4 linked regions of the Homo sapiens genome follow. The protein of the gene in region 3 interacts with the protein of the main gene of each other region in a pairwise test. Each region holds a gene or a part of one and is shown on either strand. Other genes may lie near its edges. The genes, in order: MCRIP1, TRIM3, DNMT1 and RPS6KA6.

Region 1 (7,497 bases), on a different chromosome or scaffold from region 3:
CTGGGCGACAGAGCAAGACTCCATCTCAAAAAAAAAAAAAAAAAAAAGGCCAGGCGTGGTGGCTCACGCCTGTAATCCCAGCACTTTGGGAGGCCGAGGCGGGTGGATCACAAGGTCAGGAGTTCAAGACCAGCCTGGCCAATATGGTGAAACCCTGTCTCTACTAAAAATACAAAAATTAGCTGGATGTGGTGGTGGGCACCTGTGGTCCCAGCTACTCAGGAGGCTGAGGCAGGAGAAGTGCTTGAACCTGGGAGGCGGAGGTTGCAGTGAGCCGAGATCGTGCCACTGCACTCCAGCTTGGGCGACAGAGCAAGACTCCGTCTAAAAGAAAAAAAAAAAAAGCCAGGTACGGTTGCTGGCCTATTAAAATAGGCCTGTAATCCCAACACTTTGGGAGGCTAAAGAGGGCAGATCACTTGAGCCCAAGAGTTCAAAACCAGCCTGGGCAACATGGCAAAATCCCATTTCTTTTATTTATTTATTTATTTATTTATTTGAGATGGAGTCTCGCTCTGCTGCCCAGGCTGGAGTGCAGTGGCGCCATCTTGGCTCACTGCAAGCTCCGCCTCCCGGGTTCACGCCATTCTCCCGCCTCAGCCTCCCAAGTGGCTGGGACTACAGAAGCCCGCCACCACGCCCAGCTAATTTTTTGTATTATTAGTAGAGACGGGATTTCGTCCTGTTAGCCAGGATGGTCTCGATCTCCTGACCTTGTGATCCACCCACCTGGGCCTCCCAAAGTGCTGGGATTACAGTCGTGAGCCACCACGCCCGGCCGGCAAAATCCCATTTCTACAAAAATATAAAAACTTTGGCAGGAGTGATGGCTGAGGTGGTAGGATTGCTTGAGCTTGGGAGGTGGAGGCTGTGGTGAGCCATGATCATACCACTGCACTCCAGCCTGGGTGACAGAGGGAGACTCTGTCTCTAAGTAAATAAATTTAAAACCCCATAAATATATACACCTATTGTGCACCCATACATTTTTTTTTTTTTTTTTTTTTTGAGATGGAGTCTCGCTCTGTCGTCCAGGGTGGAGTGCAGTGGCGCGATCTTGGCTCACTGCAAGCTCCGCCTCCCGGGTTGACGCCATTCTCCTGCCTCAGCCTCTCGAGTCGCTGGGACTATAGGCGCCCGCCACCACGCCCAGCTAATTTTTTCTATTTTTAGTGGAGATGGGGTTTCACTGTGTTAGTCAGGATGGTCTCGATCTCCTGACCTCGTGATCCATCTGCTTCGGCCTCCCAAAGTGCTGAGATTACAGGTGTGAGCTACCACACCCAGCTGCACCCATACAGTTTTTTAAGTCAACAAGGAGTCTCGTTTGCCTCCTCTTGTTAGGAAAAGAAATGTACCCACACCCTCAATACCACAGGCTGTGTCCTCTAAGTCTTCCCAGACACGAAGAGCCCTTCCCACCTCTCCCTACTTCTTCCTCCAGCTTAGGGACCCCCAGGGCCTCACACTGCCCCCCCACCCCCCGACCCTGCACACATAGCCCCAGGCTTTCCTGGATGTGCCAGCAGTTCCAAGAGGCCAGGGGCCTGCTGTCCCCCTGGAAGCACAATAAACGGTTCTGCAGCTCATTCAGCCTCACTGCCTCCTGGGGCCCTGCCAAGGAGCTGGGTGCCCAATTCTGACCCAGAAGGAATTTTCCATTAAAAATCAAGTATCTGTGCACAACCTATGACCCAGCCATTCTGCTCCTAGGTACACACACCCAAGATGCGTACAAGGACAGCTGGAGAATTTCACTCGTAATTACCCAAAGGGAAGAGCCACCGCAGAAGGGTAGCAATGCACACCTGGCCTATTCCCATAAGGGAATCAGCAGCCAGAGGGGGCACCACAGCCCCCACGCAGAGACGGACACCAAGCACAAGAGCAGGACCTGAGGGGCCACAGACAGGCCCTGGGACACATGGAATGGGAGGAAGCTGCAGAGGGCCGAGGCATGGACATAACTGGAGCCGGGGCCAGGACGGTGCCTGTGAGGGCAGGAAGGAGCCATCCACGGAGAGGGCTGGAGGTCAAGCAAGCTCTGAACCAAGAGGTCACCATGGAGCCACAATAAGGCCTCCAACAACCTCAGCGGGGCGGCCTAGCATAGTGAGGCACACAGCTGAGGGGGGAGGGCAGGAAGTGTGGCTGGCAGGCAGCTCAGCCCTAGCTCAGGCCTGGTGGGCAGCAGGCTGGTGTCTGGCTAAGCAGAGGGAACCCTGAGGCACAACATCCATGCATGGGGTCCCTGAGGTGGTGGATGTGGAGGGACCCAGGACCATAGTGGGTGAGAGTGAGCAGGGGACAATGGCACAGGCCCAGAGAAGCGCCGGGGGCAGCCGGAAAAGACCCAGCACACGGCAGACGGCCACCTGAGGTGGCAGCCCCTGAGCCAGCAGGAGACTGACACCTCAGCTGCCCAGGTAAAGGGGAGTGGCGGCCTGACCGAGGCCGACCACAGGTGAAGGGTGGGAGGGAGGGGCTCCATTCAGCCCAGAGAGACAGCCCCACTTCAGAGGTCTCGAGACCCCATCCAGCCCGGCCCCCTGCCTTCATCCCACCTGGGCCACCACCAGGGTGACAGCAGTAAGGGAGGGTCAGGCGATGCCTCGGTCCCGTTTTCCTTCCCTCTTTCTGTCAGAATCAAGACCGAGCATGCCGATGTCCCGGCCACGGCCCCGTACTCCTCAGTCGCTACACCACACCCCACTGCCTCTGAGAGTTTTCTTTCATAGTTTTCATATTTTAACATCTTTGAAACTGGGCTGCGCCTGACAATTGCTAACACGTCAGAATTTAACCAATGGTGGTTTTTATTTCTCAATGTACTGTAAAATATAGCGCAGCTCACAATGGCTGGGGTCTCACATGGGAGGACCCTCGATGACACTCTCCTGGCCCAGGACCACCCTTCCAGAGCCCCTCAGGCTACATGGTCTTTAGGTGTTTTCTCCCCTTCCCCTCAAAGTCTTCCACATCCCACGCCACCCCACCCCACCCAGTGCTGGGACAACCTCCAGTTCCAGACACCCAGCATCAGGACAGGTGGACACAGATGTCTACATGATCTTCCTGAAACCCTATCCCCAAGTCACTTAGCACTAGGGTGTCACCCAGGCCCTCTGCTGCCATCAAGCCCACTGTCCAGTCCCAACTTGTTTTACCAGGTGTCACCTGCTGCTCCACTCCTGCCCCAACAGCCTTTGCCACAGGACTACCTGCCACCAGCCACACAGAGCACAGGCCACCTGCAAGTCTGTGCATTCTGCAGGACGTGACTGCCTGCTTCCGTGGCCGTCCAGCCTACAGGGCCTGGCCTACTGGGCTGCAGGTATTCCCCTGCTCTGGGGCCCCGGGCAAGCTCCTCTGAGCCTCAGCATCCTCATTCAAAGTGATGCAGCCCACAGGTAGGCTCGCCTGCTCCAATAGGGACGGAAGCACAGCCATGGAAAGCCAGCAGCTCAGTGAGGTCTCTGTGGCTCCTTATCCAATACGATGATGGACAGGACAAGCATGTGCTGTATGGTTCAACTGGATGCTGTTAAGAATGAAAGGGGCTGGGGCCAGGCGTGGTGGCTCACGCCTGTAATCCCAGCACGTTGGGAGGCTGAGGTGGGCAGATCACCTAAGGTCAGGAGTTCGAGACCAGCCTGGCCAGCATGGTGAAACCCCGTCTCTACTAAAAATACAAAAAGTAGCCAGGCGTGGTGGCAGTCGCCTGTAATCCCAGCTACTCAGGAGGCTGCGGCAGGAGAATCGCTTGAACCCGGGAGGCAGAGGTTGCAGTGAGCCAAGATCACGCCATTGCACTCCAGCTTGGGGGACAAGAGTGAGACTTCATCTCAAAAAAAGAAAAAAGAAAGGGGCTAGATGTGGTGGTAATCCTAGCACTTTGGGAGGTCAGGAGTTCAAGACTGGCCTGGGCAACATAGAAAGAGCCCCATCTCGACCAGGTGCGGTGACTCACGCCTGTAATCCTGGCACTCTGGGAGGCTGAGGTGGGCAGATCATAGGAGGTCAGGAGTTTGAGACCAGCCTGGGCAACATGGCAAAACCCCATTGCTACTAAAAAAAAAAAATACAAAAATTAGGCCAGGCGCAGTGGCTCATGCCTGTAATCCCAGCACTTTGGGAGGCCAAGGTGGAAGGATCATCTGAGGTCAGGAGTTCGAGACCAGCCTGGCCAACATACAGTGAAACCCCATCTCTACTAAAAAAAAATACAAAAATTAGCTGGGCGTGGTGGCACATGCCTGTAGTCCCAGCTACTTGGGAAGCTAAGGCAGGAGAATCGCTTGAACCCAGGAAGCAAAGGTTACAGTGAGCCGAGATTGTGCCACTGCACTCCAGCCTGGGCAACAGAGCAAGACTCTGTCTCTCAAAAAAAAAAAAAAAAATTAGCCAGGCATGGTGGTATGCACCTGTAATTCCAGCTTCTCAGGAGTCTGAGGCAGGAGAATCGCTTTATACCCAGGAGGCGCAGGTTGCAGTGAGCAGAGACCATGTCACTGCACTCCAGCTTGGGAAACAGAGACAGAGCAAGACTCTATCTCAAAACAAACAACAAACAAACAAACAAAAAAGGGCCCCATCTCTGCTCTCTGCCCTCAAAAAAAAAAAAAAAAAAAAAGAACGAAAGGGATGCTGTTGATTATCAAGAATGAAACAACTCTTCTGGGTAAACTGGAATGTAGAGTCAGCCCACTCTTAGGAAGGTGGAGGCCCAGAAAAGCACTGGGGACTGAAAGAAGAGACTGCCACCAGCCACAGCAAACACTTGTCGGGCTAAGGGCAGGGCAGCCACCACGCTGGGCCCTTACACACATTGCCCACATCCCCACAGCTGGACCAGAAAGATACCCTGAGAACTTCCAGTTCAGCGCTGAAGGAGCCTGCCACCAAGCAGCGGTGCCCCTCCCAGGGCCTCCGGGGCCACAGCATTTGGGGCTCAGCCCGAATGCTGCAGCTGGCCTGAGCCTCCCAAAGTCTGCCTCCACTCTGCCTGCACCCTACAGCAGGTTTCTGGACTCCCTGAAAGACCCACTCCCTACTGATACCCATGTGGCTTTGCTCAGAGACTGGCCCTCCCTCCAGATAGGGAGGGGAGTCGCATTGGGTAGAACTATGTAGAACCTTCCTCCTCCAGGGGACCCAAGGGCTTTAGAGACTTCCAGGTGGGGAGGGGACAGAACCCCAGTCTCTGGCCTCCCAGTCCCAAATTCTTTCCCCCACACAGCCACATGCCTAAGAACAGGCCATGAGGTAACACTCCAGCAACGTGACAATAGTGAGGTTCCAGAGTTAGAATCAGTGACGCCATCGCTAGTCACCATGCTCCTCCGGAGTTTCTGAGATTCAAAGTTTCTAAGACTCCACTTTCTCTTCGTGTTCTGTGTCTTTTTCAGCCAACGAGGCTAGAAAATGATCTATTGCCCAAGCAGGCGCACGAGGATACGGCTGTCACAGCTGCCACACTGGCACCTCGTGGTCCCTTGAAGACCGCCCAGGGAAAGCCTCTAAGCGCTGCACCACCTCCTCACCCTCTCCCCTGGGTGGTGGCAGCAACAGCCTGAGCGTGTGCGCCCTCCTCCCCATCCTGATCCCACTCAAACCACAACCTCCCCTGACTCGCCCCAAATCCAGCCCTGTTGGCTCTTCCTTCACGTCCCACTTCCCACCCTCTCTACACGTTCTCGCCACATCCCACCCAAAGTCCACTCACTGGTCCCTGTTTACACCTCAGGGCCTTTGGTCAAGCTGTCTTCTCTGCCCAAAACTATCCTACTCATCCTTGGGGATCCAGCTGAAAGACCACCTTCCTGCGACGGCTACCCAGGGGCAGGAGGGAGAGAAGCACAGCCCGTGCCCCGTATGGCTCCCGCCCCCGCGGTCACAACCACCGCCCAGTGAGTGCCTAGAAGGCAGGCGGAGGCCCCGTTCTCCCCGTTAGGCCCAGCATCACCGCCCGGGGAGACGGGAAAGAGGGCAAGGCCGAAAAATGGACAGAAAAAGAATGCGGACGGCCGGGCCCGCGGCGCTCCGAGAATCGGAGGCATCCTCAGGCACGGTCCCTCCAGGAGACCGGGAAAGCGGGGCTCTGTCAGCCCCAAAGCCCCGACGGCGGCAGAAGGCTGGCCCGCTGCGAGCGTCCGGCGGCGCTGGGTCCCCGGCACCTGCCCCTGCCTGGGCGGGAAAGGCGCTCAGTCCGAGCCGCGCCCTCCCCACGCGCGCTCCCAGGCGCCCCGCGGGCCGCGCCCTCCTGCAGGTGCCGGGCGGGGAACGCGGGCCCCTCCCTCGGACCCCGGCTGCCCGGCCACTCCCCCGCGCCCGGCCCCGCCCGGCCCTGCAGGGCACCCGCGGCCGCGCGGCGACACCAGGGCGGGGCCCAGCCGCGCCCGCCCCGCCCCGCCCCGTCCCCGCCGCCCGGCGCCGCACCCGCCTCACCTCGCCCCGACCCGCCGCCACCGCCTCTTCCAGCTGGGAGGCCCCGCCGGAAGTGACGCCACCGCGGGCTGCACAGGCGCAGGCGCAGCGCGCTCTCACGTGACCGCCCGGCTGGCGGAGGGCGGGGGCGGCCGGGATTCCCGTGCGGGGTTGGGGCTCGTGGCGGAAGCTCCGGACCTCCCTGGCCCGAACGGTGAGCGCCGCCGGCCACTGGGAGCGGCCAGAGCCCAGTAATCAGGACACCACCACAGGGACCACGTGTGTAGACCCAGGCCCCCTCACCTGGGAGTCACGTTTATTGAAAAAGTAAAAAGTGTCACAGTAAAAAATTCACCTGGGGACAAAGCCAGGCCTAGGAGGGGTGGCGGGGTCGTGGAGGGACGGGTCCGGCCGCCCCTGGCCCACGGGTGGGGCACGTGCTGGCCCATGGGCGACGCGCGGCTTCTCCAGGGAGGCGGCCCTGGGCGCGGGGGCGGGCGGGCAAAGCTGGCTCAGTCCATCGTGGTCCCTTTGAAGAGCTCCACCAGCTCCTTGTAGTCCGGGTCGATGAGGTCGGAGGGCAGGTCGCCATCGTCGTTGGTTGCATCCCTGTCCGCTCCCAGGGAGATAAGGTACCTGGGGTGTAAAGGTCGCTCTGGCTGAAGCGGGGAGGAGCCAGGAGAGTGCTCGCCCCAACCCGGGTCAGAGGGCCAGAGTCCTGGGGTCACCTGTGTGTCCCCCACCTTGGGGTCCTAAGGTCCGGGTAGGGTGAGGAGGAAGAAACCTGACCCTTTGGAAGCTGTGGCCAGCTTTTCAAGTTGGTTCTATTGAGGACAAAGGCAGAAACAGGATTCCAGAAGCCTCTAGGGTTTGCAGGGTTCTTTTTTTGTTTTTTTTGTTTTTTGAGACAGAATTTCGCTCTTATCACCCAGGCTGGAGTGCAATGGCATGATCTCGACTCACGGCAACCTCCACTTCCCGGGTTCAAGTGATTCTCCTGCCTCAGCCTTGAGTAGCTGGGATTACAGGCGCGCGCCACCACGCGTGGCTAATTTTGTATTTTTAGTAGTG
Region 2 (7,497 bases), on a different chromosome or scaffold from region 3:
AACATTTGAAGGAATTTAAACAGAGTACTGACAAGATCAAATCTGTGTTTTAGAAAATTCATTCTGGCTTCAAGGAAGATAAATGAAAAGGTGTCAGTGAGGAGACAAGAACACCAGTTAAGAGGCTATTGCTGTATTCCAGGAGAGAACAGATGGTTGCCTGAATTAGGGGTAGTAACTGTGGGATTGGAGAGAAGGGTTTAAGATATTCAGGAAGCAATCCCGACCTTGATACTAACTGGGTGTGAAAAAGAGTGCAGTTTCAGGCAGTTGTGCTAAGAGGTGGGTCAGGGTATAAATGGAAGAGCTGCAGGTAGTTAGAGGAGAGACACTCCATTCAGGTCTCTTGGAGGAGGATTTGGGGGAGGTAGAGGAGATGAAGGGTAGGTATGTCAGTGAAAATGGACATCTCTGTACCATGCACTCAACAGGCACTATGTCACACTCTCAAATTATTATTCCTGTAATTACAAATTAAGAGACTGAGGCTCAGAGAAGTTACATGGATTGTCCAAGCTCACATAGCTGGTGAGAGACTGAGCCAGGTTTGAAACCCAATCTAATCCTACGTCTGTGCTCTTAAACAGAACACCAGGCTCAGAGGTCACATCACCCTGATCCTTCCAGTCACTGCCCTGTCTTGCCCCTAGCAGGGAAGAGGTGGGGGCAAGTTCTCTGCAGGGGATTTGAGTGGCGGGGATTGGGTGGGGAGAAGAAGTTCTGGACTCCCTGGTGCTGACCATCTCTCCATACAGAGGCTGGTGTGAGTGGCGGGAGCCATCTGTGGGCGCCATGGCAAAGAGGGAGGACAGCCCTGGCCCAGAGGTCCAGCCAATGGACAAGCAGTTCCTGGTATGCAGCATCTGCCTGGATCGGTACCAGTGCCCCAAGGTTCTTCCTTGCCTGCACACCTTCTGTGAGAGGTGAGGGGATGTGTGTACTGGGGAGGGATGAGGACCCTGTGGGGAGGATGAGGATCCTCCTCCCCTGTGGGGAGGGTGAGGGAGCATGTGTAAACCTGTAGTAGGTGAGGCAACATGCTTACCTGGGAGGAGAGCAGGTGAACCCCAACCTGCAGGAAATGAGGTTTTGAGGGCAAGAACCTGTGAGAGAACCATAAGAACCATAACACTGGGCCATGGTTCCTGTCAAGAATAGGGCCTTCTCTGTCCTTTCCCAAACCTCAAGGCAGCTTTTGACACCACCTAAGAAATCAAACAGTGCTCAGACTCAACCAGCTTTGGCATCAGCAATTTATGACTAGTTGGAGGATATTTGAAGTTAGGTCTGTCCTTCCCTGCTTGTCCTTGTTGTCCTCAGGTACTGAGTGAAAGGCAACCTGTCCCAGCCTCTAGGCTTCTATGGATCACTTATTCATTTAACAAATATTCATTTATTGAGCAACTACTATGTGCCAGACCCTGTTCTAGGCATTGGGTATGCAGTGATGAGCAAAAACAGATAAGATCCTTACTCTTTTTTTTTTTTTTTTTTTTTTTTTGAGATGGAGTCTCGCTCTGTTGCCCAAGGTGGAGTGTAGTGGCACGATCTCGGCTCACTGCAACCTCTGCCTCCCAGGTTCAACCAATTCTCCTGCCTCAGCCTCCGGAGTAGCTGGGACTACAGGCGCACGCCGCCACGCCCAGCTAACTTTTTGTATTTTATTACAGATGGGGTTTCACCGTGTTGCTCAGGCTGTTCTTGAACTCCTGAACTCAGGCAATCCGCCTACCTCGGCCTCCCAAAGTGCTGGGATTACAGGCGTGAGCTACCGTGCTTACTCTTTTTAAAAACTGATACACAATAGTTTACATATTTATGGGGAACATGTGATACATTGTTACACAAGCATAGAATGGGTAACAATCAAGTAGGGTATTTAAGGTATCCATCACTTACAATGCTTACTCTTAAAGAGCTAACAGTATAGTGAAAGAGAAAGATAGTCATCAAATAATCATATAGCCAGATTATAGATAAATATAACTTTTAGTAAGTGCTGCAAATAAAGTGCTGAGCTATGAGAGATTGGCATATGGAATCTGTTATAGTTTGGAGAATCAGGGAAGGTTTCCCTGAGGAGCAATTCAGAGGATGAATAGGAGTTAACTAGGTAAAGGGGGTTGGAAGAGCATTCTGCACAGAAGAAAGACCATTGGAAAAGCTCATGTGACATGAGAAAATATGTCAGGTAAGAGGCCTGGAGGAAGCCTGGTAGGGCTAGAGCAGAGTGAGTGTGACTGAGAGTATTATGGGATGAAGCTGGAGAGGTAGGTGGAGGCCAGACCACCTAGGGCTTTGTAGACCTGTTAGGGAATTTCACCTTTACCCTGAGAGCCACATGAAGCCTTTGCAGGGTTTTATATGTGATCACATCTGTATTTTGACAATATTCTCTTGGGCCCTTATCTCTCATTGTTCTGTCTTGGGTGGCCTGGTCCCTAGGTCTTCTCACCACCACTGCCTCTATCCGCACTTTTCCTCTGCCTTCTGCCCCAACGGAAACCTGGCTCTGCACCAGAGATACTGCTTCCCTGCCAGCCCTGCTCTTTGAGATTCCAGCTCCACTGCCCACTCTCCTTTATCAACTGGAAATGGCCTCAGTTTTCCTGTCCATTCAAGTTCTTCTGTCAGCCTGGGGACAACCACCCTCTTGTGCCTGTTGGTTCTTAACTGTTTCTTCAGGGTTGTCCCCCATTCCACCTCAGTAACACTCCCTCCCAACCATGCCCTGAATCTTATAATCCAGAATCTTATCTGTAGTCATAAACGCCAACGTTCCACTCCTGGCTCCCGTTACCCCACTCCCATTACACCACTTTCGATACAATATAGATATCTAGCCCCTTTGACTGCTCCCTCTTTTCCCAGTCACCAGCTGCGTCCTGGCCTCCCTGTCTTTCCTGCCCATCCTGGACCCTGTGGCTGACCGACTGGCTCCCCTGCAGTTCCTTCACATCTTTATCCTTTGCAAAACCCATGCAATAGAAGCTCAATGTTGGATCAGAGCTGAAATTGGATGTCTCTGCACTTTCTCCTGTGCCCAGATCACTGAGCACTCCTGGAGAAAATCTGGCTGAGAAATTGTAATAACAGTAGCTACCATGTATTGATTGCTTACTGTTTGCCAGGGACTGGCTAAGTGATTTATACATACTGATTTCCTTAATCCCTGCAACAGATACTTTATTAACTTCATTTTATTTTTTTATTTTAATTTTTTAATGTAACTTTTCATTTTAATTTTTTTTGGTTTGTTTTTTGTTTTTGTTTTTGTTTTTTTGAGACAGAGTCTCTCTCTGTCACCCAGGCTGGAGTGCAGTGGCGCCATCTTGGCTCACTGCAATCTCTGCCTCCTGGGTTCAAGTGATTCTCCTGCCTCAGCCTCCCAAGTAGCTGGGACTACAGGCGCACGCCACCACATCCGGTTAATTTTTGCATTTTTAGTAGAGATGGGGTTTCACCATGTTGGCCAGGCTGGTCTCGAACTCCTGACCTTGTGATCTGCCCGCCTCAGCCTCCCAAAGTTCTGGGATTCCAGGCGTGAGTCACCGTGCCCAGCTTGTTTCAATTTTTTAAATTTTATTTTTTTTTTAGAGATGAGTGTCTTGCTATATTGCCCAAACTGGACTTGAACTCCTGGGCTCAAGTGATCCTCCTGCCTCAGCCTCCTGAGTAGCTGGGATTACAGGTGCAGGCTACCACACCCAGGTATCCCCATATTAGAGAGGAGGAAACTAAGGTTCAAAGTCAGTAAATAATTAAGAAATATCTCTGGCCAGGTGCAGTTGCTCATGCCTGTAATCCCAGCACTTTGGGAGGCCAAGGTGGGAGGATCACTTGAGCCTAGGAGTTCCAGAGTAGCTTGGGAAACAACATAGTGAGATGCAGTCTCTAAAAAAGAATTTAAAAATTAGCTGGGTGTGGTGGCATGCACCTGTAGTTCTAGCTAATCGGGAGGCTGAGGTGGGAGGATCATTTGAGCCTGGGAGGTGGAGGCTGCAGTGAGCCATGATCACATCACTGCACTCTAGCCTGGGTGACAGAGAGAGGCTCTATCTTAAATTAAATAAACAAATAAAAAAAAAGAAATATTTCCAAGGCTACACAGTAAGTAAATAGCTGAGATCTGAATCCAGTTTTCACTGCAGAGCCTTCACTGTCAACTAGTATTCATTCATGTATCCCTTGGTCCCTGCTCTCAGAGGATGTTCTAGTGGGCAGTGACTGACAGTAAGCAATCAAGAAAACGAGAGCTGCAGCTTGTATTAATGTTTTACAGGATATAAACAGAGAGAAGTAGGGGTGTTTGGGGCAAGAACTATTCTATATAGTCATCAAGGAAGGCTTCCCTGAGGAGGTGACATTTGACCTGAGTTCTGAGGATAAGAAGGAGACAGATTGTTCCAGGCAATAGAAAAATCTGTGCAAAGGCCTTGAGGAAGAAGTAGACAGGACATGTTCAGATACCAGAAAAGAAACCAGTGTGGCCAAGTGAGGAGTAAAGTGGGATGAGGTGAAATTGGAGAGAATAAGGGCAGTTTAAGGGGGAGCTTGTAGGTTTTCAGAAAGTGTTTGGATTTTATTTTAAGTGCAATGGGAAACCATTGGAGTTTTTAAAAATATATATATACAGGGAAATAATGTAATGTAAAAAGTTCACCCTAGCTGTTATGGAGAGAATGGATTATAAAGGAGCAAGAGTGGAAACAGAGACCAGTTAGGAAGCTATCGTGAGCCAGGTACACTTGACAAATAGGAAGGGGATATTGCTGAATTAGAAGGTGTTTTGCATGGGGAAACACTAGATTCAGTGAGCTTGGAAGAAAGCTGCTGAAGAATAGAGTAGAATGGTTGAAATGCAGTGATAGTTGATGAGAAGTGGGTGTTAGTGGGAGCATGGGAAATGGGGGAAAAGATCACTGGGGGTGAGAAGGTCAAGGAATTAAGAAATCACAATGGGGGATGGATGTTAGTGCCACTGAGAATGATGGCAGAGTGGTGCGGGGGGTAATGGAAGAAGAGAGTGAGCCAAGAGAAAGATGTCCACAATTGGAAGTGGGGGCAACCATTAGGTTAGCAGAGACAACAATAAGGAGGAGTGATAGAGATAGAAGGCATGAGCTTCAAAGGAGCTAGAGTTGAATAGTTCAGAAATGTTCCAGTTGGGAAGAGGGAGGGCTCAAGCCCACCTTCTGGCCCTAAGGAGTGTGGAGTATGAGACAGAAACCACTCTACTTGAGAGGACTGCAAGGAAAAGTAAGTCACAATTAAATAAGTTACACTGGGCATGGTGGCTCATGCCTGTAATCCCAGCACTTTGGGAGGCCGAGACGGGCAGATCACCTGAGGTCAGGAGTTTGAGACCAGCCTGGCCAACATGACAAAACCCCATCTCTACTAAAAATACAAAAATTAGCCAGGCGTGATGGTGTGAGCCTATAATCCCAGCTGCTCGGGAGGCTGAGGCAAGAGAATCGCTTGAACCCGGGAGGTGGAGGTTGCAGTGAGCCAAGATTGTGCTACTGCACTCACACCTGGGTGACAGAGCAGGACTCCGTCTCAAAAAAAAAAAAAAAAAAAAAAAAAGCCACCAAAAAAACAAAAACAAAGAAAACACAATTAAATAAGTTAATACTTGTGAAGCACTTAGAATCATGCCTGGCACATAGTGTTTGTCAGATTTTAATTAAGATCCTAAGTTATAGGAAACATTAAGAGTTGAGATTGAGGATATGGGAGAGTTTGCATAATGCAGATCTTCACTCCACAAATTTGAGGTCCCCAAATACAGCTGCCTTCAGTTCTGATGTCTGTTTCTAGTAAGTGTCCTCTGCTCTCCCATCACTGACTAATCTGAGCCATCATCAGGCCCCTGAATCCTCCATCCTTCACTCTCCTATGTCCCTAGTGCCTCTCTATATCCTCCTCTCCTTTCCTCCTTCCCTCCATTCAGAGACTGACGTCCAGTCCTCCTCTTCAGGCCAATCCGAGGCACTCCCCAATCCTCAAGATCTTCTCCTCTCAGTTTTGTAGTCTCTTCCCCCTCTCCTTCTCTCCTGACTCCTCCATTCATAAACATGCTCAAAACTCCCATGCCAAACAGGTAAAAACTCTTTCTAGCACCATCCAACCCCTCAACCAGCTCCTCATTGGAACTTTCAAGCTCCCCTTCACTCAACTTCCAGCAGTCAAGCTTTCCTTCTCCTGCCACTCCCTCCCTGTTTTCCCTACAGACAAAGTACCCTCACATTTGCCAAATTCAGTGGACATTTTCCTGTCCTTACCTTACCCAACTCGTCAGCTGCTTTTAACGCTGATGACTACTCATTCCCTCCTGGAAATGTACCACTCAGTTTTCTGCCCTAACACAGCTGCTCTTCCTGCCTCTCGGCCTGGTCTTCTTTGTTGTCCTCATTCAGTTTTTGCTAAGTGCTCTGTCCCTCTCTCTTATCACTGTCTATGCTTTCTTGTCTGATCTCATCCTCTCCCAGTGCTACCGAAGCCATCTAAATGTTGATGGCATGCCCATCTCTTGTCTCTAACCTTCATTCTCCTGTCTACTGGTGACCTCAACCTGGGTGTTTATTGTTACAGTAAATTCAACCAGGACAAGGCTGAACTTTCCTATAGCTACTCCTCTTTCTATGTTTCTCATCTTAGTGAATGTCACCACTATCCACTCAGTTATCAAAGCTAGGAATTTGGAAGTCAGCGAAGACTCATCATCTCTCTTGCTCCCCATATCTAATCAGACAACACCTCCCACCTTCCCTCCTTCTTAAACACTTCTCAAATTTATTTCCACCTCATAGTCTACATTACTATTGCCTAAATCCAGGTCTTCTTCACTTCCTACCTAGATGATTGTAAGAGTATGCTGGCTAAGCACATACTTTGCATTTGAAGACAGGCTTCAGCACCTACTGCTGTTGTTACCTTGGGCCACTTGCCCTTTCTCCTGCTAACAGAAACGTAATCAGAAAGCATGGCACCTGGCACATATGCACTTAATAAATGGTAACTAGCTGGTGATGCCACTGCCCTCGCCCCCCAACCCCATCTGCTGTCTCATTCCCTTTAAATTCACTCCCCACACAGAGGGGGTGAAGAGGAGCTTGGTAAAATATAAACCTGGCTATACCACTCTCTTGCAGCTTCCTATTGCTGGCAGGATAACTTCTAAGCTCCTTGACTTCTGTCACCATTCCTTGCCTTGGACTTTGTCTCTAGCCAGCCACATCAAACTGCTTACAGTTGCTTATTCATACTATGCTGCTTCTTGCTGCCTTCTGTATCTGGACTACCCTTCCCCCTCTGCCTGCACCATTCTTTGGTCAGGCTAACAATTATTTATCCTTGAAGATTTAGTTTGCATCAACTCTCTGAAGACTTTCCTGGACACCCTCTCCACCTGCTTGAGCCAGATGCATTTCCTTATCACTTTCTATCATTCCTTATATTAATAATAAGTAATACAAGTAGCCTACCATATAT
Region 3 (7,497 bases):
GCGATCTCAGCTCACTGCAACCCTCACCTTCTGGGTTCAAGTGATTCTCTCACCTCAGCCTCCCAAGTAGCTGGGATTATAGGTGCCACCAGCCTCGTTAATTTTTTGTATTTTGAGTAGAGACAGGGTTTCACCATGTTGGTTAAGCTGGTCTTAGATTCCTGACCTCAAGTGATCCGCCTGCCTCAGTCTCCTGAAGTGCTAGGATTACAGGCATGAGTCACCATGTCTGGCATGCATATATATATACACGTATATATATACACGTATATGTGTGTATATATACATATATATGTGTATATATACGTATATATGTGTATACATACGTATATATGTATACATATGTGTGTGTATATATATATACACGTATATATACGTGTGTATATATATATATATTTTTTTTTTTTGAGATAGGGTTTTGCTCTTGTTGCCCAGGCTGGAGTGCAATGGTGTGATCTCAGCTCAACCTCCGACTCCCAGGTTCAAGCGATTCTCCTGGCTCAGCCTCCCGAGTAGCTGGGATTACAGGCATGCACCACCACACCCAGCTAATTTTATATTTTTAGCAGAGACAGGGTTTCTCCGTGTTGGTCAGGCTGGTTTCGAACTCCCGACCTCAGGCGATCCACCTGCCTCAGCCTCCCAAAGTGCTGGGATTACAGGCATGAGCCATCATGCCCAGCCTGTATATTTTAAAAGGTACCAGAGACCAGGCATGGTGGCTCACGCTTATAATCCCAGCACTTTGGGAGGCCAAGGCGAGCGGATCACTTGAGCCCAGGCGTTCAGACCAGCCTGGGAAACATGGCGAAACTCCATCTCTACAAAAATACAAAAATTAGTGGCTGGGCGTGGTGGCTGATGCCTGGAATCCCAACATACAGCAGCAGTTGGGTGGATTACCTGAGGGCCAAGGTGGGTGGATTACCTGAGGTCAAGGGTTTGAGACCAGCCTGGCCAACATGGCGAAACCCCATCTCTACTAAAAATACAAAAATTAGCCAGGCGTGGTGGTGGGTGGCTGTAATCCCAGCAACTTGGGAGGCTGAGGCAGGAGAATCACTTGAACCCGGGAGGCAGAGGTTGCAGTGAGCTGGTCACACCATTGCACTCTAGCCTGGGCAACAAGAGTGAAACTCTGTCTCAAAATAAAATAAAATAAAATAAAATAAAAATAACTGGGTTTGGTGGCATGTGCTTGTGGTCCCAGTTACTTGGGAGGCTGAGGAAGGAAGATCACCTGAGCCTGGGAGGTCGAGGCCACAGTGAGCCGTGATTGCATCACTGCACTCCAATCTAGGAGACAGAGTGAGACCCTGACTCAAAAAGATACCAGGAAAGAGGGGGCAGGTCATATAGTTGGGGCACTCCCGTAAGGGAAATGACCTACAGCTGGTCTTTCTCCAGTTGGGTCTGACAACAGCCCATAACAAGGTGTGCCACAGTATGGCCAGTGTCAGAATGAGTAGCCCAGGGCCACAGGACACTGTGGGGAACAGCCAGCTGATGTTCCTAAAGGCCTGGTGGGGGGTGGTGGCATTTTGAGGATGAAATGGGGGAGTCAAGCATCCAGGGAAGCAAGGGGTACCCACACAGAGGGCAGATAGAGGTGAAGTTAGAGGAGGTGGCTGGCGCCTCCCCGAATAACTCATTCTTCAGGATGTCTCTAGCTAGTCATTCCTAAATGTAGAACTGCCAGGAGTTTGCCTGGGAAATCGTGGTCTGATTTGATTACTGACAATTAGTAGCTTGACTCTTTCAGGGACAAAGAGGGAAAAAAATAAAAGAACAATAGCCGGTGCAGTGCCGCGGTGCTGCGTGCCTGTAACCCCAGCTACTCAGGAGGCTGTGGTGGGAGGATGGCTTGTGGGCAGGAGTTCGAGTCCAGCCTGGACAACATAGGGCGATCCTATCTCTTCAGAAAAAAATAAAGGAACAAGAAGAGAAGGTACCAAGGAAAGGGAGAGGAACACAGGCTGTTGTTCCCAGCCTGGGTGCTAACTACAGACTGCGGGGTGAGAACAGGCCTAACCAGCTGGGTAAGTGTCTGTTGGTGGAGAGAAGGTGCCCCAGGCAGGGACCAGGCCACTGCCATCTCTGGACCTTTCCACCTAGCACCCGCACAGACAGGTGCTCAGTTATCATTTGCCTGAAGGGCAGAAGTGGCTCCTCCAGGCTGGCCTTCCTAGAGGGTAAGTGCAGGCAGCAGCATGAGGAATGCTTTGCTGGACCCATGTCTTACAACAGCTGCTCTGGGTCATGCGGGCCCTGATTCCCCACCAGCGCCGCTCACATATGAGCACCTGCTGAATGCCAGGCCCTGCTCCAGGCAAAGAGCTAAGTGATTAGATGTAGGTGTCACTAGGCAGGGACTTCCTGACTTGCTGTGTGGTTAGGAAAGACCATTCTGTAGGGCCGGGCACGGTGGCTCACGCCTGTAATCCCAGCACTTTGGAAGGCTGAGGTGGGCGGATCATGAGGTCAGGAGATGGAGACCATCCTGGCTAACACAGTGAAACCCCGCCTCTACTAAAAATACAAAAAATTAGCCAGGCGTGGTGGTGGGCGCCTGTAGTCCCAGCTACTCAGGAGGCTGAGGCAGAAGAATGGCGTGAACCCGGGAGGTGAAGCTTGCAGTGAGCCAAGATCATGCCACTGCACTCCAGCCTGGGCAACAGAGCAAAACTCTGTCTCAAAAAAAAAAAAAAAAGACTGCTCTGTAGAAGAGACACTTAGCACCCTACAAACACAGTGGTAATATAGACTGTATATTATATATACTGTATCACTTGGACTCAAGGTGCTACAAGGCCAGGCAAGACGCAGTGGCTCATGCCTGTAATCCCAGCACCTTGGGAGGCCAAGGCAGGAGGATCACTTGAGGTCAGGAGTTTGAGACCAGCCTGGGCTACACTGAGAGATCCCATCTCTACAAAAAAAATGTAAAAATTAGCTGGGTGTGGTTAGTGTGCACCTGTGGTACCAGCTACTTGGGAGGCTGAGGTGGGAGGATCGCTTGAGCCTGGGAGGTTGAGGCTGCAGTGAGTTATGATGGTACCACTGCAATCCAGCCTGTTCAGCCTGGGCAACAGAACAAGACCCTGTCTCAAAAGAAAAAAAAAAAAAAAAAAAGATGCTTTGACATCAGGATTTCCAGGAGCACAAGGAACCTCTTCCAGGCAAAAGTCATTCTACCCTTGTAGCAACTGGGGTCCAAGGAGAGCCTTAAGTCAGGAGGGCTACAGAAACTGGTACTTCCAGCCAGAGGCACACACGCTGTGGTAATAGCGTTACACTTGACTTCTCAGTCACGCCGCTGAGAAAACTGGAAGGACATGGCTTCTACCTCGACCAAGCCAGCCAGTCCCCTGATCCCGAGGTTGCCTGGGGTGTGAAGGACAAGGTTCAACTGATTGCGGAGACCAAGGTGTCCTTGCAGAATGGGTCTGCTTTCTTTCAACCCCTCATATGAACTGGGATATTTAGCCTGGCAAAGAGAATAGAGAAACCTTCAAAACCCCTAGAATGTTTCATCCAGTAGAAACTGGATTTAACCTGCCTGGCCCCAGAGTGGCAGGTGGGATCCCAGGCAGGCAGTGAGGAGCTGGCGGGAGGGTAACTTTAGCGACATCCCTTCCCTGGTAAAACTGTGATGACACCGATCACACCTGCTGAAGCCAGGAGGGTCGCAGACAGCCGTGAAGGACGGAGCAGAGGACTCAGAATGCCGGCTTAGTGCCCAGCCTGAGACCCTATGATTCCTTCCTAGTGCTTCCCTCAGAGATGAACCCTCTGCAGAGGGGAGATAAGATATATATAAACAGCTGGCCAGGCACGGTGGCTCATGCCTGTAATCCCAGCACTTTGGGAGGCCGAGGCGGGCGGATCACCTGAGGTCAGGAGTTCGAGACCAGCCTGACCAACATGAAGAAACTTCGTCTTTACTAAAAATCCAGAATCAGCCAGGCATGGTGGCACATGCCTATAATCCCAGCTACTCAGGAGGCTGAGGCAGGAGAATCGCTTGAACCCGGGAGGTGGAGGCTGCGGTGAGCCAAGGTCACGTCATTGCACTCCAGCCTGGACAACAAGAGTGAAACTCCGTCTCAAAAAAAAAAAAAAAAAAAAAGATATATATAAACAACCACAGAGGAATAAGGCAAATACAGCTCACGCCTGCGGGATTCCCAAGAGAAAGGGTATAACAGCCTCAGGAAGAAGTTGACAGCTCTGTGTGAACCGGGCACAGGAAGCTGCTCAAACAGGGGCACCATTGAGAAGTGGCTGGTTCTGGAAACACACAAGAAACAAACGTGAGACTGGCCACATACAGGGAGGGAAAGGCACCTCCAGAGAGGTGGCTGGGGACAGTCGGAGGGAGGGCAAAAGCATCACACTTATCCATCTTGTTCCATAGTTAACAAACACCAAAGCAGTCAAGGGGAAGTAGAACCAATGACATCAGAGCCGTGTTAAGAAAACTAACCCAGCAGAGGTATCTAGTATAGATTGGATAGGAAGAAATTATAAAATGTTAGATTACTCTAACACCTCTACGCCAGAAATGCTCGTCTGAAATACAGCAGACCATGGCTGGGCGCAGTGGCTCATGCCTGTAATCTCTACACTCGGGAAGCCAGGACAGGAAGATCACTTGAGCCCAGGAATTCGAGACTAGCCTGGGCAACAGAGCGAGACCCTGTCTCTACAAGAAAGAATAATTAGCTGGCTGTGGTAGCATGCACCTATAGTCTTAGCTACTCGGGAGGCAGAGGCGGGAGGATCACTAGAGCTCAGGAATTTGTGACCAGCCTGGGCAATACAGTGAGACCCTGTCTCTACGAGAAAACAGTAATTAGCTGGGTATGACAGCACGCACCTGTACTCCTAGCTGCTCAGGAGGCCGAGGCGGAAGGATCACTAGAGCCCAGGAATTTGAGACCAGCCTGGGCAACACAGCGAGAACCTGTCTCTACAAAAAATAGTAATTAGCTGGGTGTGGTGGCATGCACCTATAGTCTTAGCTACTCAGGAGGCTGAGGCGGGAGGATCACTAGAGCCCAGGAATTCAAGACCAGCCTGAGCAACACAGCGAGACCCTGTCTCTACAAAAAATAGTAATTAGTAATTAGCTGGGTGTGCTAGCATGTGCCTATAGGCCTAGCTACTCGGGAAGCCAAAGCGGGAGGATCAATAGAGCTCAGGAATTCAAGACCAGCCTGGGCAACACAGCAGAGACCCTGCCTAAACAAAAAATAGTAATTAGCTTGGTGTGGCAGCATGCACCTGTGGTCCTAGCTACTCAGGAGACTGAGGCAGGAGGATCACTAGAGCCCAGTGAGCTATAATTGTGCCGCTGCATTCCAGCCTGGGTGACACAGCAAGACCTTGTCTCTAAAAATAAAATATAGTGGACCATGCAAGACAAGTTACAAGTCTCTGTCAAACCAGCTTCTTCAGGCCGGCTGCATGGCAGCTGGAGCAGGGCTGCCCAAGAAGGCATCCGCAGTAGGCAAAAGAGTAGACCCACTGGGCACAGTGGCTCATGCCTGTAATCCCAGCACTTTGGGAGGCTGAAGCGGGTAGATCACCTGAGCTCAGGAGTTCAAGACCAGCCTGGGAAACATGGCAAAACCCCATCTCTACTAAAAATACAAAAATTAACCGGGCTTGGTGGCTCACGCCTGTAATCCCAGCTACTCAAGAGGCTGAGGCACAAGAATCATTTGAACCCAGGAAGCAGAAGTTGCAGTGAGCCGAGATCATGCCACTGCACTCCAGCCTGGGTGACAGAGCGAGACTCCATCTCAAAAAGAGTGGACCCACCGAAAAATGTTCATGCCCTAATCCCTGGAACCTGTGAATATATTACTTTACGTGGCCAAAGCGATTTTGCAGATGTAACTAAGAATACAGACCTTGAGATGGGGAGATTATCCTGGATTATCTGGGGTGGGCCCAATCTAATCACTTCAGCCCTTAAGAACACAGAACCTTTCTAGCTGCAGAGAGCGGGCAACGTTGGAGGACGGGTCAGAGAGAGATGCAACCCGCAAATGCTGACTTTAAAGGTAGAGGAAGGGGGCATGAGCCGAGGGATGAGACCGCCTCCAGAAGCGGGCAACGACCCTCAGTTTAGAACCAGTGAAGAAAATGGGACCTGAGTCTTACAACTACCACCTTCTGCCAACACCCCAAAATAGGAAACAGATTCTCCCCTGGAGCCCCCAGAAAGGAATGCAGCCTGCTTACACCTTGATTTTCATCCGGTGAAACCCACATCAGATTTCTGACCTGCATAAGGTAATAAATGTATGTCCTTTAAGCCGGCAAGTTTGAGGCAAGACCCTCCACCTGCAAAAAGATTATGAATCGCTGAAGACTCAGATGATTTTTTTTTTTTTTTTGAGACGGAGTCTCGCTCTGTTGCCCAGGCTGGAGTTCAGTGGCATGATCTCGGCTCACTGCAACCTCCGCCTCCCAAGTTCAAGCAATTTTCCTGCCTCAGCCTCCCATGGAGCTGGGACTATAGGCGTGTGCCACCATGCCTGGCTAATTTTTTTTGTATTTTTAGTAGAGACGGGGTTTCACCGTGTTAGCCAGGATGGTCTCGATCTCCTGACCTCGTGATCTGCCCACCTTGGCCTCCCAAAGTGCTGGGATTACAGGCGTGAGCCACCACGCCCAGCTGATTTTTTTTTTTTTTTGAGACAGAGTCTCACTCCTTCACCCAGGCTGGAGTGCAGTGGCACAATCATGGCAAACTGCAGCCTCGACCTCATGGGTTCAAGTGATCCTCCCACCTCTGCCTCCCGAGTAGCTGGGACCCCAGGTGCATGCCACCACTTTTGGCTTTATTTTTTTTTTTGAGATGGGGGGGGTCTTCCTATGTTGCCCAGACTAGTCTTGAACTCCTTGGCTCAAGCGATCCTCCTGCCTTGGCCTCCCAAACTGCTGGGATTACAGGCATGAGCCACTGCACACGGCCTAGTCTAATAACTTTTACACATACTAGGAAACCAAAATGTGTGTGTGACTCACTTTCTTGCTAGATTCACTTTACTGCAGTGGTCTGGAACCAAACCCACAGCATCCCCACTGTACACACAGTACCACGTAATAACCAGTGATGAAGGGCTTTGGACAGGTGCTGCTCTCAACATATCTGTACTGATAAGCTCAGTCTTCCTAACACCCCTGTCGAGCAGGCAGCCCCACCCCCTTTTTATAGATGAAACACCAAGGCACCAAGAAGTTCAATAACTTAGCCATACGGCTGGCAAGTAGGGCGGCATTTGAAACCCAGCAGTCTGTACCCCTAGAATTCTACCACAGGGGAGCAAAACAAAAGAGGTAAGTCAATTTTGCCTTATTCAGTATGTACTCAGTAGTAGCCAAGGAACTGGAGTTAAGGAGTTCAAGACCTAGCTTAATCCCATCACAGAATGACTAGCAGTAAGAAAGCTGTGGTAGTTACGAAAGCTAATCAGTTGTGCA
Region 4 (7,497 bases), on a different chromosome or scaffold from region 3:
AGACCTAATGGCTTATCTATTTCCCTTAATTTTGAATTTTGACTATTCTCAATTAGTACAATTTCTTTAACACATACACCAAACCTCTCTCATTTTAAGAAAAACTAAAAGTCATTTGAAACCTGACATTCAGTCCACATTTCCCCTCATATGACGTTTTTCTCCTTTGTTTTCTGAAGTTCTGTCCACTCTGATCCTTTAAGTAGAGTAATAAATCCCTATACCTCAACTCTTATCAAGCTTATGATTTTTAGGATAATTCATGTTCCATTTTCACTTATGTCTTAATGACTAATTTCAACTGTAGTAACTGAAAATAGCAAAAATGTTTTATGTAATAATTTCCCCAGAATCTTCAGAAAGAAAGTGCAAATTTCAAGTTCTGCCTTTTTGAAAAAGGTAGCAACTTTCCCCCTAAAATTTCCTCAGATTTTAAAAGCTGATCTTGTTCTTTATTTTTTTATTTTTTTGCATTTTTTCTCAAAATTCAGTTGAGTGTATTTGTGTGGCTCTATTTCTGTGTACTCTATTCTGGTCTACTGATCTACGTGTCTATTCTTCCACCAATACCACATTGTCTTTATTATAGTTACATAGTAAAACGTAATATCCAATAGAGTAATTCCTTATTTTATTTTTCTTTTTCAAAATTGTTTTAGAGCTTCTAGGTCTTGTACTTTTACATATACATTTTAGAACATGCTTGTCTGTTTACAAAACAAAACAAAACAAAAAAACAGACTTGCTGGGATTTTGTTGACATTTATTTAACTTAAATAGACAGGCATGGCTATTGAATCAGCACATCTGACTGCTGATCTAATATGGTTGCTAACAACGTATCTATATTCTCTCCTTATTTTCAATATTGTCCTTAGGGGGGAGATAGCAATGTATAGAGGAAAAAGCATGAATTTAAAATAATCTAGGTTCAAATTCCAGACGTATTTCCTACTAACTTGCATGTATCTTTCTATTCTGTTAAAAAGACATAACTGTCTTACCAAGATGTTTTGAAGAATGAATAAAACTGAGATAATCTATGATGCATCTAGTACTAGCTGGTACATAGTTCATGCTCAATAAACGCTATTATCTCTTTCTCCCTTAAGATTCGATACCTTTAAATGGAATGGATTCCAACGTTTTTTCAGGTTAAAAAATTTGTATTGGGTGTTTAAATTGCTATATTTCCTCTTAAAGTTTGTCTTCAATCACTTTACAGGAGAGGCAGAGGGATTTCTTAGTAATAATTACCCATGGGTTTTGAAATTTTTTGTTAGAGATGTAATGGGATATTTGTCATTCAAAACAGAGTCACTATCTCCTTACTCAGCTAGTAAAATGGGTGAACAAGTTATTTAACCTCTTAGTTATATGGCTGAACTATATCAAAACTAGCTACGGTACTAAATTTTGTTTTTAATGCTACTGGAAAAGCAAATTCCTCAAAACTAAAGAGCAAGAACATACAGGGCAGTTCAAACAACCCAATTTGGCTCCAGTCATATCTTAAAACAACAACAAAATAAAACACACAGAAAAATATCACAATTCACAGATAATTTACTGCAGAGCTAATTGCTAGCTTACAAATTAATATTCTTTTTTTCCTATTGAATAATGACAACTACGTGACTATTTCTTTTTTTACTTTGGCCTAGAGCTGTGGTTTTTAACCCTGGCTGTGCATCATAAGCATCTGGGGAATAGATGCCCAGGCCCCCTCTAGATTAGTTAAATGTGAATCTCTGAGTGGAACACTGGCATGGATAATTTTTTTACACTCCCAGGTAAATATAACACACAGCCAGAGTTGAGAAAAACCAGCTAAGAAAACTCAAGGCCAAATTTATAATTCAACTATATTTTAAACATGTCATAGACCCTTACAGCCTGCTTATTTGTGCTCTATTTTACCCTTCATCCCCTACCCTCCACCCTTTTCATATATCTCCTACTTTGTTTTCCCTTATCCTCAATATCAAAATAGTTATCAGATTATATTTCCCATATACCATCTCAAATGCTTGGTAAAATGAAGCAAATCACAAGTAACACACATGCACTCTACTCCACCTTCCCTCTTTCTCTGTCTCTCTCTCTCTCTCTCTCTCTCTCTCACACACACACACACACACACACACACACGTGCACACAAAACTACAGCAGGACCTGTTTCTAATGTAGAGATACAGATTAAAATCTAGCAGTGAAATCAGTTACAGAATGTCTCCAGGGCAATTTAGAAAACGTCTCTTATCTGCAAAAGCCAGATTTAGCTCAGCTCTCTAAATCTCTCTCCCATCTAACTCCTTTCCTACCTAAAAACAAACAAAAATAAAGAAAATACACAACAAAAAAAAATATTGGCAGCAACAGTAAATAATCCTTGGAAATAACATAAATGAATAAACATTACATAGCAAATTCTGACAAAGTACTGAAAGGCTTATACCTCAAGATTCCAAGTGCTTATCAAATCTTAAGAACCGCTGCTACATACAATGATAGCACCAAGAAAGAAATTACAGGAAGGGAAAAAAATCTTGCATTTCCTCATCAAAATTCTAGATGAGAGAGACTATGAGAGGGTAGGTACTAAAACAATATGGCCCAGAAAAGCAACTACACTATCAGTAGGCCTTATCATGGAACACAGAGGTAATGATTAGCTCTCTTGATGAACTAATCAAGGTAGGGAAATATAGAGGACCTGCCCTGAAGGAACTGACCTGAATATTTCCAGATCAGACTGGCTTAAAGAAAGATTGACTTGGAGGAACTGAGAAGGCACCTGTGGCAGGGAGGGGCCACTGCCCTCTGACTCCTCCCCGCTTGTCTATTCCAAATAAACCTGGTGAAAGCATAGAAAAAATACAGATGTCCCTGCTCTCCTTCCACATTCCAGAAATAAGTACTGGTCATTATTTTCAGAATAGGACTCTGTACTCACGGCTGCTGACTACTGAAGATGAACATTGGTGAAACAAGAATTACAGGCCTAAGGCCCATTTAAAAAGAATTAAAAATGTTTTAGCTAGTAATAAGTGTATTCACCTTTGGTAGTAAAGAATTTAAGCATTCTAAGCACGATCAGAAACCTTCAGAGTGGAATGCTATTATTCAATACAATATTAGAAAGGGGAGATTTCATTTTAGCTTTCTATCTCCCTATACTGCAAAGATCTATTTATTTTTATATTAGTCTGGTGGCTAATACAGAGACTTATATTGGCAGGTATGCATTAAATACCTGTTACATTGAATTAATTCCTACCAGGACGCTTCTAATCTCAATTGTTTGTTATTTCTTTTTACTCTCCAACATCTAATCAGTTACCAAATTGTAACTATTCTACCTCTGCCAGGTCTCTCCCATCAGTCATCTCTTTTCTACCCCTTCTGTACTAGTTCAAAAATCTCACTACTACTTCCACTAACACAATAGCCTCCTAGCTGGAATTCCCCACCTTCCATATCTCCCCCATTCCTCACTACCGTCAATTATTTTTCAAAGCACAAATCTAATAATGTCACTCATGTCCTCAAAAACCTTCAGTGGCTCCTATTTATGAGATAAAATTGAACCCTTAAACTGGCTTAAAAAGTCCCATTCAACCTGGGCCTAGCTTACCTTTAATACATTCCTTATCTCTCACTATATCCCCTCTCCCACATCACAGACTTACAACAGTATCAGATTCTTCCTTCTTTCAGAACATTTCCATGCCTTTTCTTATATTGTGCCCATCCACGTGAAATATGCTCCTTTCATCTGTCTGTGAAAATATTATCACTTTCTAATGCCCTGCTCAAATTCCACCTCCTTCACAAAGCCTTACCAGATCCATTCCTAAACCACCACCACCCCCACCACCACCACCACCACCCCATTGTTGATAATCTTGTGCCTTTTACAATAACAATTTCCATACATGCCTGTCTTACTACCTGAATGTAAACCTGTGGGGGTAGGGTGGGACTCTGTGGTATATTTTTAGGCATTTCACATTACAGCACTATGTACAGCACTGCCTTGTACTCAATAAATGCTTCATGAATTGAACCAATTCCTACCATGACAAGAGTTCAGAATTTTTTTAAAAAATTAAAAATTTCAATGAAACACCTCATCAGCCAGATATAATAAATGAAATTATCTGTCTCTTCTTATCCTTCCACTGTTTCTAAATATAACTTTGTATTTTATCTCTGGATCACCCTATCTGTGATTACAAACATTCACAGTGAGAGCACCACTATACTTAGATGAAATGATCAAATTTAGGAAGGGGTCTTAAGAAAAACTGCTTACGAAATGGAAGGCTGCGGCTAAGGCCATGGTTATCTGAATCCCAGGATTTTAACATAGATGACAATAGTTCAGACTTTAGGGGCATGGGAAGAGGCATGATGACTGTGGGAAAAGAGAAGGAACTATTGTGTACTAGAGACTAAGTGCAAAACATCTTGCTAAGTTTATTAAACCCAGCACTGAATTTTCTTTACATAACAACTCTTGAAGATGTTTTTTCTCCAACTTATAGACAAAGAAAGTGAGGTTCAGAGAGGTTAGGTAACGTGGATTGTGTCACATCATGAGTATGGCATGGAGCTCGGACAAGAACCCAGATTTACCTGCCTTCAAAGCTGTTCTTTCCTCTATTACTATAGGGTCTCATGAAAATTAATTAAAACTAGAAGTTTTTCCCAAATTGGTTTTATCAGTAAACTACATACTCTCAAAACTAATTTGTTTAGACAGGCATGGTTGTGAGCACCTGTAGTCCCAGCTACTCGGGAACCTGAGGCATGAGGATTGTTTGAGTCCAGGAGTTCGAGGCCAGCCTGGACAATGTACAATGACATAGAAAGACCCTGACTCAAAAAAAAAAAAAAAAAAAAAAAACTAACTTGCTTAAATAAAAACAGCATTGCTAAAGAAATAATATAAAAGTACTACACGTTTACTATGATATGAAATGTGAAAATTACATCATCAACTTGATAAAGAAGCACTTGGTTCCTCACCAAAAAACAAACAACTAAGCGAACAAACTGTAACATGCATGGCATTAAATCATGAAAAGTTCACATTAGTCAAACAGGTTGTTCTTTATGATCCTTGCCCAGGAATGACCAATACCCATCCCATCTCAAGTAAAACCTCTTTCTTGATCCTGACAGAATCCAGTCAAAAGCTTAAATTGTGACTGCGTGAGGGGTGATGCCCTTTGAAGTTCCTATTCCCAGTAGACCTCATTGAGACAGTCCCTGCAAGAGCTCTCACAATCAGTTTCTTGCTTACCCTATTTCCCCTCTTCTAAGAACTCTCTTCCCAGAAACCAAAAGATTCCAGGTTTCCCCTTTTCAGGCCCATTCTCTACCTCTCACTGGAACCAAGCTAGTTATTGGTTGAAACCTGACACATTTCACCACAGAACAATTTTACAAACAGTGGTTAGGCTCGGCATCATTATACCTCGCTATTATGTACTGATCTAAAAATATAAGTACCCTTAATAAGTTTTTCCTGTGGGAAAACATGTTAAGAGTCTCAAACAACCAATTTACACACTTCTGAATGATAATTCAAAGGTTAACAACTGTCCATGCAAGCAAGACAGGTAAAAGATACAAAAAGACTCCAAAATATATGGTAGTGTCTATAATCTTTAATCTTACCAGATTCAACACACACAGAAATGGACGGAAATTATTTCTTTTGACATTAAAGTTAACAGATTCTTACCTACATTTTCTTTAAGGATTCTAGCACATTTTAAAAATATATATTCTACAACAAAAACACTCTTAGTCCTAAAATTATCACAATTGAGGGTTGTAGAGCTTGTACTCAAAATTAGCATTTTTAAAGCCAACATCAACAAATTTGTAATTAAAATATAAATTATCAAAAGTAAACTTGTTTACTTCTTATCAAAAGAATATAATTAAAAACAAACAAACTCTTCTAAGTACTAAGTGGGTCTGTTCAAATGTAGCATTTAGTTTTCACCTATAATATTTTTTATTAAGTAACTTGCAGGGTTAAATCTAACCAATCATAACTGTTTTAGAGAAAGAAGGCAGAAATACTATCTTCACCACATTACCTTCACCTTTCGTTTTACTTCATAGGGATTAACAATTTCCACTCGAGTATTTTTCCAAATTGCTGAGGTAGAGAGACCCATTGTTAAATCTCTACAATACCTAAAACATACTGCAAACAATAAAAAAACCATATGTGGTAATTACAATTTAAAACATACTACATTCAAAGTTAACAGAAATAATAAAATAGTAGGCATGCAAAAGGATTCCCACCTCCCATCCCATCCTTATATCAAAGCATTTAACTGTTTTTATAAACTAAATGCCTATAAGTTCAGTAAGTTACATACATGAATATAACAAAGTTCCTCTCCCCTTCAATAGACTTGCTAGACAATTGTGCAAACAGTTAGCATTCCCACATTTCAACAAGAAAGGAACGCCTATTCATTTATCTTGTTCTTACGAGATGTAAAATATTAAAACGTATATTGGAATTGCTTGGTTTACTAGTAAAATATTTCCTGTAAGTATAGAGGGTTCAGATTTAGGGTACTTCTGAATTTATTTCCACTATATTCCTTACCACATGTTATTCTAGCATGTAATCTTAACCCCAGTTTAGTTGATAAATAACAAAAAAATTTAAAGAAAAAAAAACAAGGTAATCATACAACAGCCAAATGTGTATTTTTTTTAAATGGAGCAAGTACTTGAAGACAAAGTTGCACCCTTTAGATGTCGAGGATTGAGAGTCTTACCTCAAAATATCCTACTGTGAATCAATTTCACCAACTATTTTTAGGAGGTGTATGGTGGCCTCTACTGGAGTAGTACGCAGTCGATTAAGTTATCAGAAAAGGATCCAACTTTCTATCACAAAAGACACGTTTTTGTGTTTAAATGCTGCCCGCTTTTATAACAACAATAAAAACAAAGCACCTGTGTACATCTAAGTTCTCACTGCACAGCTGACCAAAGCCCAACCAGAACAGTTTCAGAGTAAGAAGAGTGGGAAGAGAGGTGAACCAAAGTATTTTGGTTGAACCTCGCTAAGTCTTACCAAAGATTCGACTTATTTATAAGGGCTGGGGTTTACTTTGCGTCTTCTTTTACAGACCAACGGGGCAGGGACAGCGGTTGTGGAAAGGAGAAGGGGTGGAGCAAGAGTGCAGTAGAATCAAGGGGACCTGAGAGGAAGCAGTAGAACATCACCTGAAACCTGGCGACTGGAGATAGGTCGCCAGTGTATCTCGACATGGGTCATTACAAGGAACCATAACAAGCCACAGAGAAACGAGAAAGCTGTTACCAGGGAACACTCGTGCCTATGTGCAAATGTCCCCAGAGTTACTTAGTCACCTTGGTGTGTTTGTTGCACTGGGTTCGTAAAGCGTCCGGGGTTCAACAGCGAGCTGGAGTCCGCAGCTGTCCCCC

Evidence for each region.
Region 1: the proteins of DNMT1 (region 3) and MCRIP1 interact in a two-hybrid assay, tested with the Homo sapiens proteins (one large-scale study listed by BioGRID and IntAct).
Region 2: the proteins of DNMT1 (region 3) and TRIM3 interact in a two-hybrid assay, tested with the Homo sapiens proteins (one large-scale study listed by BioGRID and IntAct).
Region 4: the proteins of DNMT1 (region 3) and RPS6KA6 interact in a two-hybrid assay, tested with the Homo sapiens proteins (one large-scale study listed by BioGRID and IntAct).

What each region holds. Positions count from the first base shown.
Region 1 is NC_000017.11:81,826,791-81,834,287, forward strand, and holds the start of MCRIP1 (mapk-regulated corepressor-interacting protein 1), read right to left. Parts: upstream 6,502-7,497; 5' UTR 6,448-6,501; intron 1-6,447. Other genes in the region: PPP1R27 (protein phosphatase 1 regulatory subunit 27), read right to left, coding at 6,939-7,062. UniProt on the Homo sapiens protein: The phosphorylation status of MCRIP1 functions as a molecular switch to regulate epithelial-mesenchymal transition. Unphosphorylated MCRIP1 binds to and inhibits the transcriptional corepressor CTBP(s).
Region 2 is NC_000011.10:6,458,991-6,466,487, reverse strand, and holds part of TRIM3 (tripartite motif-containing protein 3), read left to right. Parts: intron 1-755; coding exon of another isoform or gene 756-792; coding exon 793-923; intron 924-7,497.
Region 3 is NC_000019.10:10,182,731-10,190,227, forward strand, and holds part of DNMT1 (DNA (cytosine-5)-methyltransferase 1), read right to left. Parts: intron 1-7,497. UniProt on the Homo sapiens protein: Methylates CpG residues. Preferentially methylates hemimethylated DNA. Associates with DNA replication sites in S phase maintaining the methylation pattern in the newly synthesized strand, that is essential for epigenetic inheritance.
Region 4 is NC_000023.11:84,179,942-84,187,438, forward strand, and holds part of RPS6KA6 (ribosomal protein S6 kinase alpha-6), read right to left. Parts: exon of another isoform or gene 7,423-7,497; intron 7,407-7,422; exon of another isoform or gene 6,252-7,406; coding exon of another isoform or gene 6,120-6,251; intron 1-6,119. UniProt on the Homo sapiens protein: Constitutively active serine/threonine-protein kinase that exhibits growth-factor-independent kinase activity and that may participate in p53/TP53-dependent cell growth arrest signaling and play an inhibitory role during embryogenesis.